4 separate regions of the Homo sapiens genome follow, and regions 1, 2 and 4 are each reported to be linked to region 3. The links are microRNA targets in miRTarBase. Many come from high-throughput screens and were not tested one by one. Region 3 holds a microRNA gene; each other region holds the end of a gene's coding sequence.
The links. Region 3 holds the annotated microRNA hsa-miR-7160-5p (UGCUGAGGUCCGGGCUGUGCC, at 3,807-3,827, shown strand). A microRNA usually pairs through its seed, bases 2 to 8, with sites in the 3' UTR of a target mRNA and lowers its output. Matches are read on the target gene's strand: a 7mer-m8 pairs with bases 2 to 8, a 7mer-A1 pairs with bases 2 to 7 and ends in A, and an 8mer does both.

Region 1: miRTarBase lists FAM118A as a target of hsa-miR-7160-5p. Seed matches in the 3' UTR shown: 7mer-m8 at 1,306-1,312.
Region 2: the mRNA of SLC25A45 is a reported target of hsa-miR-7160-5p. Seed matches in the 3' UTR shown: 7mer-m8 at 1,880-1,886.
Region 4: miRTarBase lists TMPRSS4 as a target of hsa-miR-7160-5p. Seed matches in the 3' UTR shown: 8mer at 6,140-6,147 and 7mer-m8 at 2,699-2,705.

The regions. Positions count from the first base shown.
Region 1 is chr22:45,339,611-45,346,729 of GRCh38, forward strand. FAM118A (family with sequence similarity 118 member A) reads left to right here. Exons shown (of 9, transcript NM_017911.4): 9 at 776-2,345. The coding sequence ends at 795. SMC1B (structural maintenance of chromosomes 1B) reads right to left here. Exons shown (of 25, transcript NM_148674.5): 24 at 5,849-5,959; 25 at 4,453-5,047. The coding sequence ends at 4,946. Among named protein-coding and RNA genes, the nearest start is that of FAM118A, 33 kb to the left of the region's middle.
Region 2 is chr11:65,370,727-65,377,845 of GRCh38, reverse strand. SLC25A45 (solute carrier family 25 member 45) reads left to right here. Exons shown (of 7, transcript NM_182556.4): 6 at 770-1,028; 7 at 1,171-2,654. The coding sequence ends at 1,439. It also overlaps a transcript of FRMD8 not described here. Among named protein-coding and RNA genes, the nearest start is that of SLC25A45, 8.4 kb to the left of the region's middle. RefSeq lists an enhancer at 721-1,221.
Region 3 is chr8:2,072,783-2,079,901 of GRCh38, forward strand. It overlaps MIR7160 (microRNA 7160), which reads left to right and starts at 3,807; the gene lies at 3,807-3,858. MYOM2 (myomesin 2) reads left to right here. Exons shown (of 37, transcript NM_003970.4): 10 at 557-718; 11 at 3,359-3,500; 12 at 5,952-6,151; 13 at 6,778-6,831.
Region 4 is chr11:118,117,058-118,124,176 of GRCh38, reverse strand. TMPRSS4 (transmembrane serine protease 4) reads right to left here. Exons shown (of 13, transcript NM_019894.4): 12 at 6,723-6,872; 13 at 2,287-6,275. The coding sequence ends at 6,264. Among named protein-coding and RNA genes, the nearest start is that of SCN4B, 32 kb to the left of the region's middle.

The DNA of each region.
Region 1 (7,119 bases), not on the chromosome of region 3:
AGGTGGTTCTTTTCCACTACTTTCTTTCACGTTCATTGTTTTGTTTTCTGCATATCTGGGCTCCTCCAGTGCCTGCTGACAAGAACGAAGGCCCGGGCGATTATTCTCAATAGATTGGCTTTCTTCTGCTGTTGCTGCTGTTGTGTGTACATAGATTTTGTCCCCCCGTGGCCTACCTCTGACTGGTGTGCACATCGCGGGTAGGGCCTACTGCCTGGTAGACCTTGCTGTGGAGCATTGGGCAGGGGTTTTCTTCAATACCTGTGAGATCTGTGCTCCTAGACGCCATCACCTGCACCTGCAGCCCCGGCTCTCCCCACCCAGTCATGTCTCCTTAGGGCGAAGCTCCTGGCCTCTGTTGTACAGAAAGCCCTGGCCTGTCCTGCATGTGGGTGAGAGAAGCCAAGCCTGGGGATCCCAGAGGAATCGACAGGCTTATTCTTCTCCATACCTCCAACAGGCTCTCACTGTATGTTTGTTGAAATTGCCCCATCCTCAGTCCACTAAGAAATAAAAGAGCATCCATGTTCATGGATTGAGATTCCCACAGATCGTTGCAAATGTAATGTCATCATTTGCTTGATCCCCTGATAGTACTGATAATTACACAAGGTCATTTCCAGACAGTGGCTACTGTTTCCATTGTGGAGGGGTTTTCAAAGTCTTCCGTACATAAGAACAATTGTAAAGCAGTTTCTGAAATAGAAATCTATTGCAAATAACTTCTTTTAGCTGGACTTTAACCCTTGGGCATTTCATTCTTTTATTTAAACAGATGATGCTGGAGGGTCTTGAAATCTTTACAGTAAAACCTGCAACTTGAAAACTAGCCTTCTGTAACCACAGTGCCCAAACGAAGAGGAATGTATGGAGAACTCCACGTGGATCTCTGATTGCGAAACCGTCACATACACCAAGAGAGCCACATGGGCATGTGGCCCTCAAGGCTGGGTGAGAGGGCTCCCCTGTGTGTTGAACTATGCAGGAGGGTGACGCGGACACATTTCAGGTGGACTTTGCAAGGACTGATGGATAGCTACCTCAGGGACCAGAATCCGTGGGAAGGGATGGACCTGGTGTTCCCGTTCCCATCTGACAGGCTCTCTTTTGTCAAGGTGGTATTTTTCGTAATAAAAGGGGAAGAGTAAAGACTGTCCAAGCAACAGTAGCTGCCAAAGAGAAAATACGAAATAGACACTTTTTTTTTTTGAGTCAGAGTCTCACTCTGTCACCCAGGACAGAGTGCAGTGGTACGATCTCAAGCTCACTGCAGCCACCACCGCCTGGGCTCAAGTGATTCTCCTGCCTCAGCCTCCCGAGTAGCTGGGATTACAGGCGTCCACCACCATGCCCAGCTAATTTTTTTATTTTTAGTAGAGTTGGAGTTTCACCATGTTGGCCAGGATGGTCTCGAACTCTTGACCTCAGGTGATCCACCCGCCTTGGCCTCCCAAAGTGCTAGGATTACAGGCATGAGCCACTGCGCCCAGCAAAATAAACACATTTTATAATTTGTATGTGGAAACATGTTACTATAGAAAGCATTTTAAAGGTACGTTTTAAAGGTCCACTGTTAAATAGTAAAGAATGAATCCGCTAGCGAAAATGTTTTTAGGGAGAACAGCTGGATCAAAAGGGCTTCTTTGGAATTAGGTTGTTTTAGTAACTTCTGTTCCAAAGAAACACAGGTCTGATATTGCTAAGAACTGAAATCGGAGGAGCCAGAGGCCCTTTTCAGTCCAGGCCAACATTGTGCACGGCCACTGTGGGACTGACAACCGGGATAGCTCAAGTTCGAGAGACCAGGTTTCAAACATTATAAGTTCCAGGCTTTGCAAGTCTTTATTCTCTGGGGTAATATCCAGTCTTTCTGTTATTGTCTCTTAAAATTCTCTTCCATGGCCCACATTAAGGGAGTTTGCAGAGAGTGAGGGAGGCAAAACTTGAAAAGGGCCTGCAACACTTTAAACCTTCTCAGGTTCACCCACATGAAACGGCTGTGCTGAGTGTGCTGCCGGTGCCCGGGGAGCTTCTCTGACTGTGACCCGGCAGAGGCTTCTGTGGCGGTGCATGAGCGGCCCTACAGTGGAGGGTTCTCTTTGGAAACAAACAGCCCTGCTTGGTTTCAGTTTGAGGCCACTTATCTTCAATGTGACATTTCTTGCCAAGCCCTGTGACACTCCCCATTGATGACTCCCATAGGTACAGATAAAGTTAAGAACAGGAAACAGAAGGGTAGGATGCATAGGGAGGGAGAGAAGCCCTGAAAACTTTTTTTTTCTTTTTGAAGCATGGAAAACAAATCTTTTATGCCACTCCAGCCATAAATAAAATTTTAACTTCAACCCTGTGTGCTCAGTGTTTCTTTAGTTATGCCAAGGCTTGCTAGAATGTTATTTAGTGAGAATTTTTAGCTTGAGTTGCCACCCAACTGTGAAATCAACTAAATGATTACTTGAATGTATTTAAATGTTTTAAAAAGCAAACATTATAAATTTTTCTTTAATGTCATTTAGTAAGTGCAGTCAGGGAATATCTGAATCTAAGAGCTGGCCAGACACAGGGTATAGCAGAATTACAAGCATAGAGGATGCTATGCAGTAGGATGTAAAGCTCATTACAGCCCATTTTTAAGAAAAGCTTTGTGTGCTCTGCTGGAGGACACAGCCATGTTGCTGCACCACATGGATGTATCTAGTCAGTTCTGTTGTATGCTCGTTGTAGAATGTAAAGTTTATTCCAATCCGATTGATAGATTAAAGGCAATTCCAGCATAGTGCACTTGCTTGTGTATAGTTTAGTCCGTGAGAAACATCACATCAGGAGGTAACAAAGTTGGCCCTGCTGTTTACTGCCTCAAGCTAGAGTAGCTATTACATTTTAAAATGGTTATATTTTAAGACAGGGCAGGTAGCTCAAACCTGTAATCCCAGCACTTTGGGAGGCTGAGGGGGGCGGATCACTTGAGGCCAGGAGTTTGAGACCAGCCTGGCCAACATGGTGAAACCCTGTCTCTACTAAAAATACAAAAATTAGCCTGGCGTGGTGGCGTGTGCCTGTAATCCCAGCTACTTGGGAGACTGAGGCAGGAGAATCACTTGAACCAAGGAGGCAGAGGTTGCAGTGAACCAAGATTGCACCACTGCACTCCAGCCTGGGCGACAGAGGGAATTCCATCTAAAAAAAAATAAAAATAAAATGGTTACATTTTAAATAGTTATACAAGTACCTGCTAAGAACCTCCTTACTATCTCAACAAAGCCTGAATATGTGCTGTGGCCCTTAAATTAGGTTACTGGGCATGCTCTGTTATATCAGAAATGACTGAACTTGGTGGGATCACTGACAGTCTATAAGTCAAAGTTATGAAAGAGAACAGCCAAGCGCGGTGGCTCACGCCTGTAATCCCAGCACTTTGAGAGGCTGAGACGGGTGGATCACTTAAGGCCAGGAGTTCGAGACCAGCCTGGCCAATGTAGTGAAACCCTGTCTCTACTAAAAATACAAAAATCAGCGGGGCACGGTGGCAGATGCCTATAGTCCCAGATACCTGGGAGGCTGAGGCAGGAGAATCGCTTGAACCCAGGAGGTGGAGGTTGCAGTGAGCAGAGATCGCGCCACCGCACTGCAGCCTGGGCAACAGAACGAGACTACGTGTCAAAAAAAGAAAAAGGAGGACAAATAGAGTGGCTTCTGCTGTCTGCAGTTCATAGAGGTCAGCTATCTCACCGTACCGGAAGTCCCTTCCAGGAAGGAACCAAATCTTTTTGAGATTTAATTTCTTCCTCACAGAGTGCATTCTGTTATTACATGAAACAGTGTTGTTAAAATGGATACATTTACTCAGGAGGCTACTCCTTGGTTAGCACTTGGGCCCAAAGCAGTCTGAAGTGGAAGCCCACCTCAGAATTTTCTTGTCCCTTTTTTTTTTTTTTTTTTTTTTTTTGTTGAGACAGTCTTTGTCACCCAGGCTGGAGCACAGTGGCGCAATTTCAGCTCACTGCAACCTCCACCTCCTGGGTTCAAGCGATTCTCCTGCCTCAGCCTCCTGAGTAGTTGGGATTACAGGTGCACCCCATCACACCTGGCTAATTTTTATATTTTTAGTAGAGACAGGGTTTCACCACATTGGCCAGGCTGGTCTCGAACTCCTGAGCTCAAGTGATCCACCCGCCTCAGCCTCCCGAAGTGCTGGGATTACCAGCGTGTGAGCTGCCGCTCCAGGCCTGTCTTGTTCCATTTTGAAGTGGAAATGAAGTGGTGAAAGTGCAGCTTTCTGCACATAATAACGTTTGTAAGTGGAGAAGTCAGTTGTCACTTGAGAAACTCTGTATTCTTCAATATTTCCGTAACAGAGATTCTATTTATAAAAATTCAGATTGCATTGAAACAGACATAATTCAATTTCACCATTAAAATATTTTTGGCTTCTAAAATTCTACATTGGAGACATTTGAAATTAGAACATTTTTTATTGATATTTTCAATACTAACATAGTTTCTCTGAAACAATTTCCCAAAAGCCAGGTTCAACAGTTTATTAACAATCTTATAACTAGTATGTTTAAAAACCAAGAGAAGTTCCCTTCAAGATTACTTGGGTGCAAGGCAAGATCAGAGTGAAGATGAAGCTGAATTCAAAATTTTTCCAACCAAACTAGCTTATTTCAAAATAGAAGTTAGAATTATAGTACAAAATTGTACCTTTTGTTTGTTTTTTAAAAACTCATTTGACACCAGCTCTCACTGAAAACTTTCCCTACTAGAATGAGGTCTGAACACTCAACTAAAGTGAGCCACAGCCTCTTTGGCTAGAACGACTAAGGTTTCTCTTAAAGGGTGCACCAGGCTGGTCCTGCTTGCTCCAGAAGTCTCCTGTGGAGGAGCTGTGTGAGTATTAGAGTGGGAACTGAACAGTGATCAGGTGACTGCTGCAGGACTGCCCCTAGCGGGACTCTCCGTGTCTCTTGCTGCTTTCTTGGCCTTCAGTGTCTGGATACTGAGAAAGATCTAGGGTCAAAACTCGGCTGAACATGCAGTCATCGTACTAAAATGGAGAGAAGACAGTTAAAAGTTCCCCTAATTAGGGAAAAAGTATTATTAAAGTAAGAGCCATTAGTGAGTCTAGAATTGCATTCAAAAGGAATCTTCTTCAACCTAGTAAGATATCTGCATTTATATTGGTTGTGGGTTTTTTTGGTATTATCTGGTATGAGAATTTCCATTACTCATGCATTATATTTCCAGGTGGTCCCCTAACATTCTGTAGGCACAGGAAGGTAAATTTTTATCTTTGCTTAAAGGAAAATTCAGGAAGTAAATCCTAACTGTCCAAAACCAAATGACCTGAACTAGTGGCTCTACTTCATGAGTTCAGGTTAGTATTTTCAATGGCTTGAGAAAGGTGTGTTCACATTTTAGAAGTTACTATACAACTTGGAACTTCTAATGTATTTCTTTGTTTTGTCCTCTGATACTTTTGGAGGATAAATGGTTCCTTGCTCTACCACAGTGCATTTGTTTTTGCTTAAAACACTGAAACACTGCAGAAATAAGAAGTATAATGTTAACAGTTCGTGTAAATTAACATGGACTTATTTCACGAAACAAAACTATCCTACTTACTGTTCTGCAATTTTCCATTTGCTTTTTTCACTTAAAATATATCTTCAATCTCTATGTATTGTCTAGGAAAGCACCAGTAGTTATTTTTAATCTTATTTGATTAAAAAGTCATTTCAGCATTAGACTCCATTTGGAAGTTTTAATTAGGAAAGCCCAGTGGCTGTCAGGGTACTAAGGGAAGTTGGCATTGGGTACACTCCTCTCGCCTCTGATTTGTCTTTACCTCAGGATAGATGCCGATCAGCGCGTCGGCTCTGGAATAGAACTCTTCTTTTAGGGAGATGACTATCATCTGAAACTGGTCTTGAGTTTGCTCTTTGATGTAACTTGACACCTGGAAGAAATAAAAACACACATTTCACTAGGAAGGAAAGGCCTTGTCTGGGCTCTGGAGACAGTAATTCTGCATGTCTCTGAGTCTGGTCAGTTTAGGTGACAAGGACTTATCCACCTTTCCAATAATTCAATAAATCCTCAACAACTGCAGAAATGGAAATAGATTCTAAAATGAGATAAACTTCATTAAACCTATGATCTAAAACTTTAAGAATATTTTAAAGAATAAAGCTCCAACTTAAGATACTGTGATGTGAATAGGTAACCAGCCTTTATAACAAGAAAAAAACTACCACTCAGAGTATTTTTTGAGGGTGAAAAAGGGCTGGTATTTAAACGTATAACCTCCAGGCTGGGCGCAGTGGCTCACACCTGTAACCCCAGCACTTTGGGAGGCTGAGGCAGGCGGATCACCAGAGGTCAGGAGTTCAAAACCAGCCTGGCCAACATGGTGAACCCCGTCTCTACTAAAATTACAAAAAAATTAGGCAGGCATGGTGGCAGGTGCCTATAATCCCAGCTACTCGGGAGGCTGAGGCAGGAAAATCGCTTGAACCCGGGAGGTAGAGGTTGCAGTGAGCCGAGATTGTGCCACTGCACTCCAGGCTGGGCGACAGAGTGAAAGACTCCATCTAACAACAAGAAGAGCAAAAATCCAAAATAATTTCCACCTTCCTATTTTGCCAACTCAGCCTGAAAGGAAAAACAGGGCAATTATATATGTATTCGTAATCCATAATCAAGTCATTTGGTTAGAGGTGAACTCTGGTTCCCTAAGGAAGCTCAATTCCAAGGAAATGAGAAGTGCAAAATGGACTCAATAGAGATGAGTCTTGGTGAACAAACCACTCAGAACTTGGACGGTGATAAACCCCAAGAAGAGAAAAACTACCAACAGTCTAACAAAGGTAATACCAACTCCTGGATTTCTCTGAGGGCCTAGAATGGGTCTTCTCCATGTGCACCAAAGATCCTGTGGACACAAGCTCTGGAAGTAGGAATGGTAGCTTCCATTGAGGAATGAGTGGCCATGTTTTACGTGAGAAAGGAAAGAAACTGCTCTAAGAGGCTGAATTCATAGAAGGAACTTCCAGCATTAGAGGCAATGGTAGTAGCCACTATGACAGGGCTGAAAAAAGGTCTTGGGCCCATAATAGG
Region 2 (7,119 bases), not on the chromosome of region 3:
CGATTCTCACCTGGACTCCAAAAGCTATCTTGACCTACTGGCATCTCTGACCCAAATCTTAATTGCCCCCATCGCCCTCTACATCCCCCCAGCACTGACCCTCACCAGGACTCCAGCCCCAATTCCATCCCAAATCTGTGTAGCATCTGCTTCTGCCGATTCTAAGAGCCCTAGCACCTGCCAAGTCCCCCCATTACCCACCTTCCCACACTCAGAAGCCTCTTTGGTGGGATGCTAATGGGAAGGAGTCTTGCCTCTCTGGAGGCAGGAGGGGCTGGCCTTGTGCCCCTCCGGGCCTCTGAGAGGTGGGCGCAGGAGAACAGCACTCACGAGGGGACCTCCTTCACCCTGGGAAAGGGTGGTTTCTTTGCTATTTCACAGTCACAGGCTGAATCCTTCACTTGGCCCTGCCCACCGTACAGGTATGCTCACTGCCGGCTTTAGGGAGGCCAGAAACCAACCTGCTCCTGCAAAAAGAATCCAGGCTTGTTCTGAGTGCCTGCTGTAGGCCAGGCAAGTTGGTCACTGTTGCATGAGGGGCAGTGCCTCTCACTCTTGGGCCTGATGCCAAGGGAGGTGGCCTGTCCCGGTCGCATGCAGACATCCTGGCCATCCCAGCCACACATGCACGTGAGAGGCTGGGTGCCGGCAGGGTTCCTGAGGGACTGGAAGATGTGGCCCCCTGCCTGCCTCCTTCCTCTTGTGAATATAAGGGGCCAGTTCCCAGCCCAAAGCCCCACCCGGGGCCCTCATGTTTCATCACCAACAGGCCTACTGTCTGGCTCCTTTTGACCTCATCAAAGTCCGGCTACAAAACCAGACAGAGCCAAGGGCCCAGCCAGGGAGCCCCCCACCCCGGTACCAGGGGCCCGTGCACTGTGCAGCCTCCATCTTCCGGGAGGAGGGGCCCCGGGGGCTGTTCCGAGGAGCCTGGGCCCTGACGCTGAGGGACACCCCCACGGTGGGGATCTACTTCATCACCTATGAAGGGCTCTGTCGCCAGTACACACCAGAAGGCCAGAATCCCAGTAAGTAAAGTGGCGTGAGAGGATGGGGGACAGAGGTGTGGGTAGCAGGCAGGGTCCAGCGGGGACTGGGGAAGGAAACTAGGGTCTGGGGAGGATGCTCTGTTCTGGGTCTGACCCCTGCTCTGGGCTCTCTCTGCCCCAGGCTCAGCCACGGTGCTGGTGGCAGGGGGCTTTGCAGGCATTGCTTCCTGGGTGGCAGCCACGCCCTTAGACATGATCAAGTCCCGGATGCAGATGGATGGACTGAGACGCAGAGTGTACCAGGGGATGCTGGACTGCATGGTGAGCAGCATCCGGCAGGAAGGACTGGGAGTCTTCTTCCGGGGGGTCACCATCAACAGTGCCCGCGCCTTTCCCGTCAATGCTGTCACCTTCCTCAGCTACGAATATCTCCTCCGCTGGTGGGGATGAGCCCTGCGGCAATGCCAGCAGCTCCCCATCAGGCCCACGGCCTGGAGGCCAGTTTGAGATTGGAGGCCAGGTTGAAAGCTTGCAAATCAGTGCAAGAGGCTCAGCCCTTCCTAACCAAGGTGCCTCCCACCCGCGCAGATCTGGGCTGGGCAGACACCTGTGGGAGCCGGAAGCCAGGGGGCCTGTGCAGCCTCCCTGTGTAGCTGGCCTTGACTCCTTTGCCTCCCACATCTGTGAAACAGGGAGCATGAGGCACAAGTGAGCTGGCAAGTGGTGCTGGTGACATCCCAGCTCCTGTCCTGTGCCTTCACCTCTTTTTTTTTTTTTTTTTTTTTTTGAGATGGAGTCTTTCTCTGTCACCCAGGCTGGAATGCAGTGGCGTGATCTCGGCTCACTGCAACCTCCGCCTTTCCACCTTCCGGGTTCAAGCAACTCTCCTGCCTCAGCCTCCCAAGTAGCTGGGACTATAGGCGCCCGCCACCACACCCAGCTAAATTTTTGTATTTTTAGTAGAGACAGGGTTTCACCATGTCAGCCAGGATGGTCTTGATCTCCTGACTTTGTGATCCGCCCGCGTCGGCCTCTCAAAGTGCTGGGATTACAGGCGTGAGCCACCGCGCCCGGCTGCCTTCACCTCTTAAGGAGCTCTGAGACTCCACTTCTGAGAGTCCCTGCGGCCTCCCACCTCCCTGCCTTTCAAAGCTCTCTCCCCCATGACCCAGGATAACCCTATGTCTCCTCCCCCAGAATCCTTCAGTGGCTCTCATCACCTTCAGGAAAAGCCCAAACTCCTTCCACCCTCCAGGTTCCTCCCTCCCCACGAGGCTTTGTTCTCCTGGGGTTGCTTCCTGGACCCTGAACAAGTTGTGCTCTCATTGGCCGGGCCTGGCCAGCAGTGCACAGTGCCTGGCAGGTTGACTCTACCATCCCCGGGGCTGGCCCCGCTCTCCTCCGAGACCCAGGCTGAGCCCAGTCCCCTCACCCTTCCTTGACTTACCTCCCCACCTGAGGCTGACTTTGGGGTTCCCAGACACCCTACCCACACACATGCCTTGATCATAGCACTTGCCTGCGCTTCTTCAGAGTCATTAATTTGCTTCTCGGCTTCCCCACTGGACTGTGAGCTGCCTGAGGTCAGGGATTGCGCTTTGGATGGTTTCCAGCCTGAGCCTGGTGCTTGAACAGACGTGTGCAATAAATGCTCGTTAAATGATGCGACTGCACTCCTGACCTGTCTCTTCACGCCAGCTGCCACACCTGCTTCCCTGGTCTTGCCACACAGCTTTCTGTTGAACCTCCCAGCCCCCATTTTCCTGCTCTGACCCTTCTCGAGGTCACCTGCAGTGGAGGATGCTGGGAGCTGGGGGTCTGTCTGCTTTGCCCACTCCCAGCCAATGGTGCTTGTTTTCTTTTTCTTTTTCTCTATTTTTTCTTTTATTAGATACAGAGTCTCACTCTGTTGCCCAGGCTGGAGTGCAGTGGTGCCATTATAGCTCACTGTGGCCTTGAACTCCTGGACTCAAGTGATCTTCCCACCCTAGTCTTCTGAGTAGCTGGGACTACAGGTGTGTGCCACCGCACCTGGCTAATTTTTAATTTTTTTGTAGAGAGGAGGTCTCACTATGTTGCCCAGGCCGTCTTGAACTCCTGAGCACAGATAGCCCTCCCACCTTGGCCTCCCAAAGAGCTGGAGTTACAGGTGTGAGCCACTGTTGTTTTCTTTACCCATCTCACTTGCTCAGTGGGAATTAAAAACTGGCTGAGAGGGTTCTTTTAACTGACAACAAAATTGAGCATCAAGGGCCATTTGTACCCACTAATGTCCCTATCTGGTCTGAGATCAACGTGAGTCCACCTCATGGTGACCTGAATTCCTGCCATTTACTGGGGGCTCCCTGTAGAAACAATCACAGTGTTATGATCACAGTTGATAGAGAGGCAGCCTCGGCTCAGAGACATTATGTAACTTGTCCTAGGTCACACCGCGGGTAAATCATACAATTTGCTTAGATGCCTCTGAGCTTCCAGCCGCAGTGTCCAGTTACTTAGCTACCCTGCTCCACCTGGGCACATGGCTACCCTGCTCCACCTGGGCACATGGGGGTCTTCTGCGAGTCACCTAAGTTCAACTCCCCCCACACCACCCTGGGCTAGACCTGCCGGGACCATACTACGTCACGTGCTCATCAGAGCTCTCCTTCACCAGATCATGTGCTGCAGATGGCTGGAGGCCATCTGCAACTAGTTTTTGTATTTTTAGTAGAGATAGGGTTTCACCATGTTGGCCAGGCTGGCCTCGAACTCCTGGTCTTATGTGATCCACCCGCCTTGGCCTCCCAAAGCGTTGGGATTACAGGCGTGAGGCACCTGGCTCTGTCCTTGTTGCAACAGTTTAGGCCCTTGTTGCAACAGTTTAGCAAGCTTCATCCTGACTCAGTGGGTAAGGTACTGTGAGTTTCTAAGTCAGTGGTAATCCAAGTGTGGTCCATGGAGCAAAGCTTATTAGAAATGCAGCATCTGGCCAGACACAGTGGTTCACACCTGTAATTACAGCACTTTAGGAGGCCGAGGCAGGAGGACCACTTGAGGCTAGGAGTTCAAGACCAGCCTGGGCAACATAGTGAGACCTTGTATCTACCAAAAATTTAAACATTAGCCAGGTGTGGTGGCACTGTGCCTGTAGACAGAGCTGCTTGGGAGACTGAGGTGGGAGGACTGTTTGAACCTGGGAGGTTGAGGCTGCAGTGAGTTTTGATTGCGCCACTGTACTCCAGCGTGGGTGATGGAGCAAGACTCTGTCTCAAATAATAATAATGATAATAATTTTTAAAAAGATATGCAGCATCTCAGGCCCCACCCCAGACCTACCAAATCAGAATCTCTGAGGATGGGGCGCAGGAATCTGTGTTGTGAAAAGCTCTCCCAGGGATTTCTACACATGCTAAAGTTTAAGAATCGGTGTTCTGGGGGCTCCTGATCGTGGGAATGTGCTGCCCTTTCGGGCTGAGAAAGGTGTATGGTGGAAGAGACTCGAACTCCTAGTTTCTAGCAGTCTCTGCTCCTCCTATGGAAAACACAAGGTCCACCTGAGGCCGGTTCCCAGGTGCCTTGAGGCAGGCACTGCCCTTCCTGTGCCTCAGTTTCCTCTGTGATCCCTTTTTTTTTCTTTTGAGATGGTGTGTTGCTCTGTCACCCAGGCTGGGGTGCGGTGGCACGATCTCGGCTCACTGCAACTTCTGCTTCCTGGGTTCAAGTGATCCTCCTGCCTGGGACTACAGGTGCATGCCACCATGCCCGGCTAATTTTTTTGTACTTTTAGTAGAGACGGGGTTTTGCCATGTTGGCCAGCCTGGTCTGGAACTCCTGACCTCAAGTGATCCGCCCGCCTCAGCCTCCCAAAGTGCTGAGATTAACAGGCGTGAGCCACCACCCCCAGCTTTCCTCTGTGATCCCTTCTGATCGGACCATCTCTGAGCCCATCCAGCACCACCGCAGCGCCAGGGATTCCAGGCTGGACATTGCAGCGATGGTACAGCAGGTGTCAGAACACCACTGGGCAGCCCGTGGCTGGAAGGAAGCAAACAGGACGCATGAGGAGGAGGAGGTGGGCTCCTATAAACAGTGCAGGAAGTAGGCAGGAGGACAGGTCAGAGTGGTCCTCTGTTGTTTGCTATTTCTCATCAAATTACCAGTTAGCGGGAATTCCCATTTGGGTGCCCCTCTGTCTGAGAGAGAGCTGTTCTCCTTTTCCCTTTGCCTATTAAACCTCTGCTCCTAAACTCAAAACAACAACAACAAAACAGCAAGGGAGTAAAATGAAAAAAATCTATTTTTTTTGGCTTTAGTTAAATGGGCTCCCATTCTCCCTCTCTGGTTCTATCTAGAGGAGTCTCCTAAAGAGCCTGGAGTGCCCGTCCTCTAAACTCCACCTTTACAGCCAGAGAGAGTGGCCAGACTCAGGTGGGACCAGGGAGTTCCAGGCCCAAGTTCCTTCCACCAATCCATGGCAAAGGCTACCCACTGGGCTGGGAGAGCAGTCCTGGAGTGAGTTTAGGGTTTAGTATGGTGTGATTAGTGAGCAAATAACTCACTCCTGCACAGTGGCCCCAGGAGGAGATGCCACTATTGGAGGGGAGGGCAGAAAGACAAAGATGGGGCAGGAAGGGGCCAGAGAGATTCTAAAAATCTAGATGTTGGCTAGGCATGGTGGCTCTCATCTGTAATCCTAGCACTTTGGGATGCCAAGGTGGGCAGATCACCTGAAGTCAGGAGTTCGAGACCAGCCTGGCCAATATGGTGAAACCCCATCTCTACTAAAAACACAAAAATTAGCCAGGCGTGGTGGCACATGCCTGTAATCCCAACTACTAAGGAGGCTGAGGCAGGAGAATCTCTTGAACCCAGGTGGTGGAGGTTGAAGTGAGCTGAGATTGCCCCACTGCACTCCAGACTAGGTGACAGAGAGAGACTCTATCTCAAAAAACACAAAATTTAGCCGGGCTTCGTGGCTCATGCCTGTAATCTCAGCACTTTGGGAGGCCAAGGTGGGCAGATCACGAGGTCAGGAGATCGAGACCATCCTGGCTAACACAGTGAAACGCCGTCTCTACTAAAAATACAAAAAATTAGCCGGGCATGGTGGCACGCACCTGTAGTCACAGTTACTTGGGAGGCTGAGGCAGGAGAATCACCCGAACCAGAGAGGCGGAGGTTGCAGTGAGCCAAAATCGCGCCATTGCACTCCAGGCTGGATGACAGAGCGAGACTTCGTCTCAAAAAAAAGAAAACAAAACTAGATGTTTTTAATCAGCAGGGTCTCATAAGGCATGCGAAATTGCTTAAGGATTTAACAGATGGTATCTCAGGTTGCTGTTATTTTTGAGAACTCTTTTCGACAGAAGAAATCCCTAAGAACCAGGAGATAGTCTGTGAACCTGCTTTGAGGTTACAAAGGAGGTGGTGTCTGTCAGTCACTTGCAAAGAGCTGATAACTTGAGCAAACATGTTAAATAAAGTCCCATTGGACTCCTGTTGTCCAGCGTCATACTTCTTTTTTTAGCAATGACCACAGCTGAAGAAATTCCAGGAGACTAACTTATGTGTATAGTGACACTCCCTGTGGCTTTCCCCACCACACTCCAGCCTGGGGAAAGCTACATGCGCAGGGAAAGGGGGAAATGACACAACCACGAGATGACTCTGGCTTAAATAACTTTGACCAGACTCAGGAAACAGCTGAGCCAAGGGGGTCCATGCTGTGAATGTGACTTAACTGGTGTCTCCAGCCTGCTCAGGCTCCTGAGTGCCAGGCCCACACTGCTGTCTCTGGTCACACATCCTTAGATGTCCCAAAGGCACCTCAAGTTCCCCAGCCCGCCCTGCTGCCCTCAGCTCCCAGCCCAGGCCGATGCCTCAGAGGAGCTCTCCCTCTTCACCCCCGCCATGCCAAAAGAGTCTCTAACTCCTCTTAACCCTTTGAAAGATTTCTACTCCTTCCCAATTTTTTAGAGATGGGGGTCTCACTATGCTGCCCAGGCTGGTCTCGAATTCCTGGGCTCAAGTGATCCTCCTGTCTCAGCCTCCCAAAGTGCTGGGGTTACAGGCATGAGCTACTGCATCTGGCCTCGACTCCCTCTTTACCAATCCTAACAGCACAGCCCTGGTCCTGTCTCAGATCTGA
Region 3 (7,119 bases):
GATTCAGTTTAATGCACATTACTGCATGGAAGGGGCTGGTTAGCAGCTTGTGTACTATTTCTAGACAGAAATGCTACCTTAGTCGTATTGAGATTCTTTTCTTCCTTCCATCCAGTCATTTTGTTTTTAGAGTTTGATGATATGGAGGGTCTATGCTGGGTTCTTTGGAGATGTGACAGTAGCCCCTTCAGCTGCACACCCCTGTAATCCCCCACGGGCGGGGGGAAGCCGGTTGGGGCAGTGGCCGTCCAGCAGAGAAGCAGCGGGCCCCCAGGTGAACCCAGTTTACCTGAGGACAAAGCTGGCGGCCGCTCGCAGCACGTCCCACTTTGACCCACTCAAGTGGCAGCCTGTGTTCTGGGCTGTGGGTGCTCAGTTCACGCGTGTGCTTCCACGAAGTGCAGCTGTTGGGATTTTACCAGGCTGAGGCTCTGCCTTCCGTGGTGTCCAGCTCGACTGTCCTGTCCCGCTCTGAGACGACGCTGGTGTCCCCGAGGCTTTCTTTGCCTGCTGGGGTGATTTTGGATGCAAACCTTCCGTGTTAACGCTCTTTCAGACGTGCTGTTGAAAGAGTCCAAGTGGACGAAGATGTTCTTTGGAGAAGGCCAGGCCTCCCTGTCCTTCAGCCACCTGCACAAGGACGACGAGGGCCTGTACACCCTGCGCATCGTGTCTCGGGGCGGCGTCAGCGACCACAGCGCCTTCCTGTTTGTCAGAGGTGCGGGCAGCAGGGTTCTCAGGGTGCAGACCTTGTGTGTGCCCGGGGAGGGGAGGCAGCCCTGGGAGGAGGGAGGCGCTGGGAAAAGGAGTCCAGAGGGTGTGAGACCACTTTGCTCCTTGGAGACCCCATGCGGCCCCGATTTTCCCTCAGTGCATGGGCACGCCAGGTGCTTCCTGCCGATGAGCAGACGGAAGAATCGGGACACAATCCGGAATAGACCAGAATCATCATTTTTTTGTCTCTTGAATCGTTCATATAGTCATTAGCATTTGAAAAACGATTCCCAAGAGTGAGTGCCCCAGATTTACTCATTCTCAGGGAACGTAGCCCGAGGATGAAGAGGGGCACAGTGTTGGAGTCCCAGGGAAGAGCTTCCTTACTCTCCTGCCAGCGACTCATTCCCTCTGGACTTTGGCTTAAGAGAGGCAGATGTGATGATGATGACAGCCAGTGCTGTGACCTCCACCACCCACTTCAGTGAAACTCGTGCTTAAGACACTTGTGGCCATGACAGCTGTCATCACCAGACGCTTTATGTCAGGCAGTGTGCTGGGGTCCTACACGGATTTCGTCTTCACAGCAGACTCACTAGGGAAGCTTCACTCATTCCATTTATGAAAAGAAAGACAATATTTGTGATATACAGATATATATATTTATAAAATGCCTATTGTATACAGCCTATAGGTGTGCATGTATGTGCCTATACTTACATAAACATCCATGTATATATAAGCTGGAATTCTTACAGTGATAGCAAAAGGAAATACTGTTCTCAGTTTTCCAGATGAATCCATGGAGGCTCAGAGGCAGGAGAAATGTCTCTAGGGTAGAGAAGCTCAGATTTAAATTTTGCTGGAGCCTGGAACCTGAGTTCCTGTTATAACTTTGTAGTGTTTTTGGCATCATGTGACTGAGCAGAAGGGGCCCACCTACTCCCACTCCTCCTTTTTTTTTAGTTTTGTTTTTGAGATGGATTAACACTCTGTCGCCCAGGCTGGAGTGCAGTGGCGCGACCTCGGCTCACTGCAACCTCCGCCTCCTGGGTTCAAGCGATTCTCCTGCCTCAGCCTCCCCGGTAGCTGGGACTACAGGCATGTACCACCACGCCCGGCTAATTTTTATATTTTTAGTAGAGATGGGATTTCACCATGTTGGCCAGGCTGGTCTCGAACTCTTGATCATAAGTGATTGGCCCCCCAACTCGGCCTCCCAAGTGTTGGGATTACAGGTGTGAGCCACCGCGCCCGGCCCCACCTACGCTTTTATCAGTGTCTGTTTCACTCCCCTCCTGCTTCTGCCCTGGGCTGCACCTCAGCAGCCTCTGGGTTTAGGGGCAGCCTCCTTGCTGAGGCACAGCTGACCTACAAAGAAGGCGTCAGAGCGCTCCTGCGCCATGTAGCTGCTGCTGCTCTCCGGGTCCCCGGGCTCCCGGCTCCATCCCGATCAGCCGGGCATCCTTACCTGCTGCCCAAGTTCTCACCTTCCCACCTGCCTCCAGCTCCAGTGGGGTGCAGGACGCATCCATACATCTTCATGATTACTTTTTCCATTGCATCCATTAGATCAGAGCTTAAAGGAAGGACTGTATCATTAAAGAATATTTCATCTGAAAAGAAAGAGAAGAAATGTCAACCAAACGTATCTCACCCTCCTCACTTCCCACACGATAGCCTGAGCTTGCGAGTCTGTGAGGTTAGACACTCCCGCCAAGTTTCACTGCTGTTGTTAGGCGGGCGTTAAATGTCCCTTCCGTCTTCTGCATGTGCCTGCTGGTATGATGCTCCGCCCCATAAAAAGGCAATAAATGCAACACGGCTCAAATCGCCTTGCTCACTCAGCACCAGCAACAGGAGGAAAATAAGGCAAAGGTGGGGAGTTTAACCATTTTCATCGCTTTCTGAGGCTTTTGAATGTGAGAGGAAACCATTTGGCTCAATGTCAGGAAATCCTCAGCTTTTAATACCCTGAAGATATGTGAGCAGGAAACTGGATAGTGCTCACCCTGCTAAGCATGCGTCACAGGGCAGCCAGGGCTGCTGAATAAATACATAGTTTAGATAAGAAGGTTCACATTCAGTGTATTAACTTTCTATGTTGCTCTGTTGGTTTTCATGCAGCTGTAATTAAACCTAATTGCATTAGGGTCATCAATAGACTGAGAAACGAATGATGCAATATTGTCCCAAATATTTGCTCAAAGTTGGCGAAAAGAGTAAATCGCCCAATTTCCTAAGGATTTTGAAATAGAAGAGTATCTCAGGTGATATTTCTCAGGTGTTAGAAATGCCAGATTATTGTCACTGTTTCATCCGCACATTTTTGCCAACGTGCCGTTATGCACCATAGCAGGACCAAGAGAAGATGACCTGTAATTCAGGATCTAATGACGAAAAATTGTAGACTCAGTGTTTTATCAAGGATTCTATGTTTTGAAGCTTTTTAATTCATACATAATTTTATATTTCTTGTCACCAACCCGCCAGAGTAAGAAATATTCTAGTACTTTGAACATGAGAATTAAACAGTGGTCAAATCAAGGGGATAGAATTGGAGCTTGGAGGAGCTGTAAACAGGCTTTGCAGTGACCCCAGCCTTTAAATGACAGGCGTGTGCCTTTTCTCTCCCTGCCCCAAGATGCTGACCCGCTGGTCACAGGGGCCCCCGGTGCACCCATGGACTTGCAGTGCCACGACGCCAACCGGGACTACGTCATCGTGACCTGGAAGCCGCCCAACACCACCACTGAGAGCCCCGTCATGGGCTATTTTGTGGACCGGTGAGCGTCTTGCATTCTCCCGGGGATGGGAACGTTCCGCATGGAATCTTACCATGGACAATATATTGAGAAATTTTTCTCAATGCAGGTTGACGTTCCCATTTTTTGATTGGCTCTAGGTACATGGCTAATTGGTTGTATAAGTTCCTATTTAGGTAATTGGTAAATACGGCCAAGTAGGCTGAGCCCAGCATAACCACACTGGGTTTCTTTTTGTTGAAAGTGGAGGCTCGTTTGCCTGTTGCACACCCAGTAACCAATCCCACCAACGTCTTCAGGCTCACTCTGAGCCCCGCGCTGTGGTTCTGCTGAGGTCCGGGCTGTGCCCCGTACCGGACAGGGCCCTGGCTTTAGCAGAATTAAAGCTTGGAACTGTCCTTCCCTCCTGAGAGACAAAGTGCTGCGAAGAATGCCAGCTCATTTCTAACAAAGTTCTTTCCTTTTCTCTACTGAGGAATAAGGTGTTCTTCTTGTTTCCAAGTGAAAAATCTTGAGCTTCGAAATACTGGAGTTTGTGTTTGAGTTGATAACTTACATTTAGGTCATCGTTGGAGCCAGTGGAGTTTGAATTCTTTGACTTCCCGTACTGGGGACAGCGCTTGGAGCCTGGGAAGTGTACTGCACAGAGCCAGTGGGTTTACTGGATATGTAATTTATGCCCTAAATACAAATTCCAGTTCTTGGAGTAAATTATAGTTGAAGAAAATGAATTTAGAAATTAGACAGAGAGTAAAAGAGGATGGTTCTGGCTGGGCACGGTGGCTCACGCCTGTAATCCCAGCACTTTGGGAGGCCAACGCGGGCGGATTACAAGTTCAGGAGATCAAGAGCATGCTGGCCAGCATGGTGAAACCCTGTCTCTACTAAAAATACAAAAATTAGCTGGGTGTGCTGGCATGTGCTTATAATCCCAGCTTCTTGGGAGGCTGAGGCAGGAGCATCTCTTGAACCAGGGAGGCGGTGGTTGCAGTGAGCCAAGATTGCGCCACTGGACTCCAGCCTGGCAACACAGTGAGACTCCACCATCAAAAAAAACAAAACAAAACAAAAAACAAAAAAACAAAACAAAAAAACCACAAAGGATGGTTCCTGGTAGAAATGCAAAATTTTATATGTATATTAAACAGAAAAATAAGGTGATTATCTTAGGAAAAAATGAGGGAATTGGCTTTTGTTTGTTTGTTTGTTTATGCTGATTAAATTCTCTTTTCTCTTCCAACAAAACTACTTGTTTGGCTGAGACCTGTGCCATCAAACTAATATTTTGATATGCTAGAGACAGTTCTGCAGGGAGTGCTGTTCCGGGCTTACCTTGAATTAAGCAACTACAGCAAGAAAAACAAACCCTCAAAACGATCTTCTTTTCTCCTGGGACAGCTGATAAGTTTTCCCGCCATGTTGACAAAAACCATTTCCTGCACTGTCTCAGCTAACAATCCACGCTCCTCCCCTCATTACAAAAAGCGCAAACATGAAATTCAAAGCAACGGAACACTTTGGGAATGAGGGTGCATTTGGAAGTGGGGGGTGCAGCTCCTCCTCTGCCCTTCCTTTGGGCTTACGACTTGCCAGCTGTTGCCTGAAGTTGCAGGTTTTCCCATCAGACTTTTGGTTTTGACCTGTTGTTCTCTTCGGCTAAAACAGCCCATGACATGTGGATCAGACAGCTTTCATTAAAAGTGCTGGATACTTAGGAGGAGAGCTGGTTCTTTCCCAGATGAAGGCACCACTCTGGGGTTGAAGTGCTCCCTCCCAACACTGATTTTCTGAACTAGCTCTTTTCTCCTGGGAATTTCATGTGAAGGTTTTTTTCTTACATTTTTCAACCTGTGAAAAACAGAGGTTAATCTTTCCTATATTTCCAGGTTTCTGGTCAGGAATTAATATTTTCAAAAGACTTCTAAATTCCACATGAGAGGCATTCTAGAAAGAAATGTCCTAACATTATTCTAGGAGACTGTAAGCCAGCTTTCCCAGGGACCTGGGCCCTTGGTCTCACAGAGTGGGACGGGAGCTGGAGGCAGAGGGGGCTGAGCCTGTTTCCCCAGCCTGGGCCTCAGACGGGCCAAGCCGCAGCTTAGGGGTGCCGTGACTATGTCACGTAAGTCGGAACAAGAACTGTTCAGGATGCGTCTAAAATAATTTTTTGAGGAGATTTTTGCCTAAATGTGTTTGATGACAGAAATTGATCTTCAGCTATAAATTATTAAGATTCATGGGCATATATTACATATATAATAGATATTACATATAATATATATATTGCATTTTCTAAATAGCTCTGTCTTCTAATGTTTATCTATACAAGTCAATATCTTAGCAGCAAAGATTTTACTGGCGTGAGATATTGTCCTGTTATAATCAGTGTGTGCATATATGCATATACCTATGTATATTTAGTAGGTTGCCACATTTGCTATTCTCTGTTGTTTTTCTTTTTTTAACTTGAAGATGTGAAGTAGGAACGAATAATTGGGTGCAGTGCAATGATGCACCGGTGAAAATCTGCAAATACCCGGTCACAGGGCTTTTTGAAGGAAGGTCTTACATATTCCGAGTGAGGGCAGTGAACAGTGCGGGCATCAGCCGACCCTCCAGGGTCTCTGATGCGGTGGCTGCACTTGACCCCTTGGACCTCAGAAGGTTACAAGGTAAGCTGCTCACGCCTAAGTATCCACTGTGCCCAGGAAGCTTTGGCTGTTTTGTGTGTGATTTGTTGTCTCTTTCCCTCCCAACTCGATGTGAGCCCTGAGAATGCCCTGTGTGCAGAGCATAGCACAGGCTGTTACAACGTTCTCTGACATCTCCACCAACATCACTACAGGAATGAAAACGGGCTGACGTACACTCTAAAATGAATGTGCCTCTCCTCCAGAAAGCTCTTTGCTGGCATCCAGTTAAATTGGCTCAGAATTAGACCTTTTTTTTATTCCATTGGTGATATAATTTCAACACATAATGACACTTAGAAGGCCATCCTATTCTGAGTTTTAATTTTGCATGACACAGATTCCTTAATGGGACTGGGCCCTTCGTTATGGTTGTAAGCGAGCCACTATATTTTCCTTACGCACATGGTCCTTTGCATCCACCACCAAGAGCTGAGAAGTGCTAACTGTTACCAGGACACTTCCAGAATCAGCTCTGATGCCCCCAGAGGACTCACAGGTTGTAGTCCTAATGCAGAGGAGATGCAGAGCTGGCACAGAATGAGGGAAAACGGGCTTTTGGGGAAAACTTCGCATGTCAAATCGAGTGTCAACCTTTCTCTCCGCAGCCGTTCATTTGGAGGGAGAGAAGGAGATTGCCATTTATCAGGATGACCTTGAAGGTAAGTAGCACCTCATCACCCCAGCTGCTCAGCCCCTGGGGATTTGGAGTTGTAATTAGAGATGGGAGAGATGGACAGAGAACGCCCCCTACTGGGCACGGCCTCTGCATGGAAAAATGAAAACCGCAGGTCAGGCCTGCAAGCCCAGTGTCCATAGAAGTTAAAAAAAAGAAAAAATCAAGCAAGACAGAGTGAGAGGGTGGGAGAAAGGGTGAAGGATTGGTGACTCTTAGACTCACCTTTCATTTGGGGTTTACAAAGGCGTTCTTTCAGGGACTTGTAGAGAAG
Region 4 (7,119 bases), not on the chromosome of region 3:
TTGACCTGGTGATCTGCCCCACTCGGCCTCCCAAAGTGCTGGGATTACAGGCATGAGCCACCATGCCTGGCCCCTCCTGAAGTATTTTTAATTACAACTTTGCATCATTTTACCCCAAATACTTCTGTATGCATCTCTAAAAGTTAAGAATATCTTTCTTACTTAACTATATCATTGTCACACATAATGAAATTAACAATTCCTTATTATCATCTAATACTGAGATCATATTCACATTTCCCAATTACCCCTTTGCCCAAATGCCTTTTGTTGCTAACTTGTTCAACTCAGGATCTGGTCAAAGCCCATGCCTTACATTTGATTGTTATGCCTCTTAAGACATAACAGTAATTGGCCGGGCACGGTGGCTCACCCCTGTAATCCCAGCACTTTGGGAGGCTGAGGCGGGCGGATCACGAGGTCAGGAGATCAAGACCATCCTGGCTAACAAGGTGAAACCCCGTCTCTACTAAAAACACACAAAAAATTAGCCAGGCGTAGTGGCGGGCGCCTGTAGTCCCAGCTACTTGGGAGGCTAAGGCAAGAGAATGGCATGAACCCAGGAGACGGAGCTCGCAGTGAGCCGAGATGGTGCCACTGCACTGCACTCCAGCCTGGGTGACAGTGCAAGACTCCGTCTCAAAAAAAAAGACATAACAGTAATTACATGACATTGATTTGTTGAAGAGATGGGAATGTCCTGTGGTGGAATGTCCCACCTTCTGGATTTGTCTTTTAGTGGTGTCATTTAATTTGTTCCTCTAATTCTTATGTTTTGTTCCTCTAATTCTTGTATTTCCTGTACACTGGAAATTAGATCTAAAAGATTTATGTTAAACATTTTTGGGAAGATGCCTTTAGATGATGCAACATGAAGGTGTACTTCATATTCACGTTGGGAGGAACATAGTATCTGCTGATTCCACTGTTAGTGGGTAAGGTGATGATAGCCTGATCCCTTCATTTTGAAGTTAGGTTTCTTATTGAGATTAGCAAGGGATCCGTGGGATGATATGAGGGTATTATGTGACTGTGCAGTTCTCTGTGGTCTTAGTCCATTCATGCTGCTCTAAATACCTTAGACTGGGTAATTTATAAACAACAGAAATTTATTGCTCACAGTTCTGGAGACTGGGAGGTCCAAGATCAAGGTTGCCAGCAGATTCGGTGTCTGGTGAGGGCTCATTCTCTGCTTCCATAGATAGTATCTTGTTGCTATGTCCTCACATGGCAGAAGGGGCAAAGAGGCTCCTTCAAGCCTCTTTTGTAAGGGGCACTAATCCCATTCATGAACAGGGAGCTCTCCTGACCTAATCAGCCCCCAAAGTCCCACCTCTTACTACCATCACCTTGGGGGTTAGGATTTAACATACAAATTTTGGGGGACACAAGCATTCAGACAATAGCATCCATTGATGATCCTTGCCTGAATCAATGATTTCATTAGAAATTGCCAATGATGGCTTCCTGTCATTCATCTATATTGATTAGCTATACTTTCCCTCACCACCTGGAGCCACCCTGTTACCTGGAAGTAGATTTCTATGGCAAAGCAGAATAGTGCTAACTTTTCCTCTTTAAATATTATTTCAGAGTAAGAGCCTGGTGTGATTGCCAACTCCAGTGGTGACAAAGGATGATTTTTTTAATTTTCTATTTTCTTCTCTTTGTTTGCAAGTTTTCACTTATTATAGCTTACTGGTGAATTGAAACTTTCGTGATTATGTAGTGACCCTCTTTATCCTAAAGTCAGTTTTGTCTTTTTGTCCTAAATCCTTATTTAGAAAAATATTATATAGCTACCCCAGCTTAAATTTGATTAAATGCTTGCTGTCTGTACCTTTCTCCACTTTTTCAGTTTTAATGGTTCTGTAACCTGGTGTTTTGTGTATGTCTGTTACAAATAACATATAGCTTGATCTTACATTTTTATCCAATTTGCCTATCTCTGTATATTATTTGGTGAGTTTAATATTTATTGCGATTATTAGTACTTTTTTCACTATCCTACTTTGTATATTCTATTTGTTCCATTTTTCTGTGCTTTTCCCTCCTTAGTGCTCTTCCTTTCCCTCCTTTCTCTTTTGTACTTGCTTGATGTATTTGTTTTTTATTCATCAATTGCTACTTTCAATTGTTTTGGAAGTGACACACTTTTATTTCCATTCTTTTGGTGATTACTCTTTTAACTAACCATCTAGAACATAGTACAAACATTTTATGTAACATAACATTAATATTTAACCCTCCTTTTGGACAATTTAAGAACTTCAGAATATTTTAACTCCAGCTATCCCCTTTAATTTACATGCTGCATGCTGTGGTTACTCCATATTTCAGTTAGGCCTTTAAAAATTAACCCACAATGGAAACTTCTTGGTCAAATTTTAACTAGCTAGTATTATATTTATATACAGGGTCTTTTTTCTTTACTGATGTATTTTTCTACTCATAGCCAACCAATAAATTCAATATCTGTTTCAAAAAAAATTAACCCACAAAATAAATATTATTGTTATTTTAATAATATGTAGACACGCCTGTAATCCCAGCACTTTGGGAGGCCGAGGCGGGGGGATCACTTGAGGTCGGGAGTTTGAGACCGGCCTGGCCAACACAGTGAAACCCCATCTCTACTAAAAATTCAAAAATTAGCCGGATATGGTGGCATGTGCATGTAATCCCAGCTACTCGGGAGGCTGAGGCAGAAGAATCACTTGAACCTGGGAGGTGGAGATAGCAGTGAGCCAAGATCCTGCCACTGCACTCCAGTCTGGGTGACAGGGCAAGACTCAGTCTCAAAATAAGAAGAAGAAGAAGAAGAAGAAGAAGAAGAAGTAGACAGAGTGTGTTTAGACTTACCTACATTTTCACAATTGCCTCACTATTGCTACTTGCTTCTTGGTTCTTCCTTTTAGGATCATTTTCCTTCTTCCTAAAGTAAATGCTTTATATATTCTTTTAGAGAAGGTTTGTTGATGGTAAAGTCTGTTTTTGTTTTCTTGAAAATGCCTTTATTCTTGAAAGATAGTTTTGTAGGGTTCACAATCCCTGATTGATTGTTATCTTTTGGCATGCTGGAGATATACTTCCACTGACTTCTAGCTCCTTTATTGCTGTGGGAAAGCCTGTTGTCAGTCTAATTGTGGTAGATTTGTGGTACTGTGGGTGGTCTGGGTTTTCTCTCTGCTGCTATAAGGAGTTTCTTTTTGTCTTTGGTGTTCTGCAGTTTCATTATAATGTACATAGGTGTGGATTTATTCTAATTTTTCCACCTTGGTTGTATGCGTGTACACTATGGTGGTGTATGTTCTGTGGATTCACACCTTTTATCAATTCTGGAACATTCTCAGCTCTTATCTCTTTGGTACTGTCTCTCTCTCATTGTCTTGATTCTCTCTTTCTGGGATTCTGGATATGTTAGAATTTACCATTCTAGGCTTCATTGCTCCTGGCCTTGTTTTCATATTTTTAATCTCCTTATCTCTCTCTGCTGTTAAGCCTAGTCACTTCTTCAATTTATCTTCCAGTTCATTTGTTCTCTCTTAATTGGTGTTTTAATTGTTATTTACCCCATCCACTTAGTTTTTTATTTTTATAATTATAGTTTTTATTTCTAAAAGCTGTATTCAGTTCTTTTTCAAATCTGCCTGTTATTTTTGCTTGATTATTAAGATATCCATTTTTAACAGAAAATAGCAAGTGTTAGGGGGGATATGGAGAAATAGTAACTCCTGCAAACTGTTGATGGGAATGTAAAATGGTGCAGTCTCTATGGAAAGCAATATATCAGTTCCTCAAAAAATTCAAAATAGAATTACCATATGATCCAGCAATTCCACTTCTGGGAATATACCCAAGAGAATTGAAAGCAGGGCCTCAAAGAGATACTTGTACACCCATGTTCACAGCAGCATAATTCACAATAGCCAAAAGATAGAAGTAACCTGAATGTTCGTATAAACAATAGAATATTATTTAGTCTAAAAAGGGAAGAAATTCTGACACATGCTACAACATGGGTGAAACTTGAAGACACAATGTGAAGTGAAATAAAACAAGTACAAAAAGACCAATACTGCATGACTTCACTTAAATGAGGTACCCAGAGTAATCCAGTTCACAGAGACTGAAAGCACAATGGTGGTTGCCAGAGATTGGGAGGAGGGGGAAATGGAGAGTTGTTTGATGGGTACTGAGTTTCTGTTCTGGAGATGGATGGTGGTGATGACTGCACAATAGTGTGAATGTACATAACACCACTGAACTATACACCTAAAAATGGTGAAGATGGCAACTTGTGTTATGTGCATTTGACCACAGTTAAACATGATTTTAAAATGTGGAACTAGTATTCATTTTTTATTCAAATATTTTATAAATTATCATATTGGAGGCCCTATAGTGTGGTAGTTTACAGCATGAACTCTGTATTCCAAGTGCTCACGTTCAACTTACAGTCTATAATCTCAGGCAAGGAGCTTAACCACTTTGTGCCTTAGTTTTTTTAATCCATAGAGTGAGGATAAGAATAATACCCATCTCACAGATTTCTGTGAGTATTAAATGAATCAGTACATGATGAAGCACTTACAATAGTGTCTGGCACATACAAATACTCTGCAAATATTGCTTATTATCATAAGTCTCTAATATTCTGACATCTGAAGCCTTTGGGGTTCTAAATTAGCTGTTTTTTATGCTGCCCACTTAAGGTGTTTTTTATTTTTCAACGTCTCTGATCTTTGATTGTGAGCTCATATTTGGAGGATCTTTGGGAATCCTGAGGCTCTAAATTTGGGAAATTTTCCTCCAGACCATCTGCAATTTGAGACCACATTTACTGCCATCAGTTATCCCTGCTTCATGTAGGAGCCCTGGTTCAGCTCCCTTGTCTTCAGTGTGTCCAGGTTTAGCTCCACTGCCAGCCTTCATATAGGTCTCGACCCAAGATTTTAGTGTATTGCTCCCAGATCATCACCTTAGTTTCCACTCACAGTTCTGATGGTTTTGTTTTATTTTGTTTTGTTTTCTGGGTTTCTATTTTCTTTGTTTTTGGCATTTGAGGAATTCTGTTGTTTCCTAAGAACCTAGTACAGTATGAACAAGTATATTTCATCTAGGATCTGACTTAACTATAGCAAGACAGTCCTCAGAAAACCCAAGCTTTCATACAGATGCCAAAAAAGTCCATGGGGTTTAATTCTTTGACCATTTTGAGTGCAGGGACTTATTCATGCTTACATCCTCACAACTCAGCTTGGGGACTGCCTCACACCTGGCAGCTGATCCTTTTTGTTTTTTAAATGTAAGAAGCCACACTGAGGGCTCTCCAGGCGGAAAAAGTTAGGACACAGGACCAGCATTTCTTTCCAGCCACTTGTGGATCCCTGATTGAATGTCACCCTTGACTGCCTAACTCATCTCTTTCCCAAGTCATAGGTTATCCCTGGCTCCTGGCTGATTATCACAGGCAGGGAGGGAGGGAAAGAGGCAAAGGGAGAAGGCCCTGTGTGGGACTCAAACTTGCTCACCCTGGTTTCTGTAATCTGCAGCTCACTCTTGCTGCCACTCAGCAGATCTGGTCTCCCTAACTCTTTTTTCCCCTGCCTCTACTTTGAGACTCAATTGCTTCCCCAGGACTTCTTTTCTCCCCAAGCCAAAGAATGAAAGTTCAATCATCCCAGCTCAGTTCTTATCAAGCATTCCAGCTAGCCTATGCCAGAGATGTTACACAGCTCTTTAATAATAGTGGCCATAGCTGTAATAACAATGACAACAGTAGGTAACGGTAGTCATACCAACAGTAGGGCAGTGCATTTTATATTACAACTGGTTTCTTGCTCTAGTAGGCTTGGGGATGGGTGAAGACGGACAGGGCTGGCGCAGACCCTTTCCTTCTCCTCTCCAGCCCACAGTGATCTGGGCTTTTACAAGACAGCCTGCTTCCATTCAGTAGTGTGGGAAAGTTCCTTCTTGGCTTAGCAATACCCCTGAGACCTTGTTCAGTGGGCTGTGTCTCTCCCTGGGATGCTGGGAGCACCAAGTGTGGCCGAGCTAGGGCTGCTGACTTCCTCTGGGCGCCTCTGGGCTGCGAGGGTCTCTTATAGGAATTGAGGCCCTTTGCTGCTCCAAGAAATGCTGAGGCTGTGGGCAGAGGGGTGTACCCAAGGGGACTCTTGCTCTGTGTCTGACTTTGGGGGATCCCCAGGTGGGCAGGGCAGGAAGGAAGCGGCTCCCAGCACTGCAAAGGGGCAGCAGCATTACAGCTCAGCCTAGAATAAGAGAGACCGATGAAGAGAAAGTCAGATTATCTGAAACTGGACAAAGTGGTGACATGTGTAACGTGAGTCTTCCTTTTCTGAAACACTTTGCTTCTCTCCCTACCCTGCAGAGGGCCAGGAGGTCTCATGAGCCTTTCCACTCTCTTCCTTATCAGAATCTTCTCTCTAGAAAGGATCTGATAGTCTCATTCTGTCAGAAAAGAGAAAGAAAGGCTTGGTGTGTTCTATTCCCTAAGGTATTTGCATTTATCAGAAATCTCTGACCTAAGGAATTTCAGCCTTAATAGTGCAATCTCAGGCTGTCCCTTGCTTGGAGGGAAAGTTATTTGGGATGTAAAGAGTTGTCAGAACCATTTAAATCAAACCTGAGGATGGATTGGCACCCCCCAGGTAGAGGACTGGAGGGAAGGCACAGTGGGTAGGGCAAAGGTACCTTACCTTCCAGACATTGTAGATCCAGTTGAGATAGGCTGAGACCTTGGTGTATACTCCTGGGGTGCTCGGGCCCCCGCAGCCATAGCCCCAACTAACGATGCCCACCACATGCCACTGGTCAGATTGGTACATCAGGGGCCCACCACTGTCACCCTGTGAGAGACCAGAACAGAGACTGCTGGGGAGGGCAGGTGAGGTGGGGGGGCTTCTCCTTCTCTGCTCCCTGAACTGGCCTATCTGTTCCCCTGCACTCCCTGCTGCTCTCCGATATTCCACCCTCACCCTCTTTGCTCATTAGCACCCTAGAATGGTCTTCTCTTCTGGGGCAGAAAGGCTTGTCTGTGGACAAGTAAGTTGCAAGCATGCCGTTAGCCTTCTCTCAGAGATTCACAACTCACAT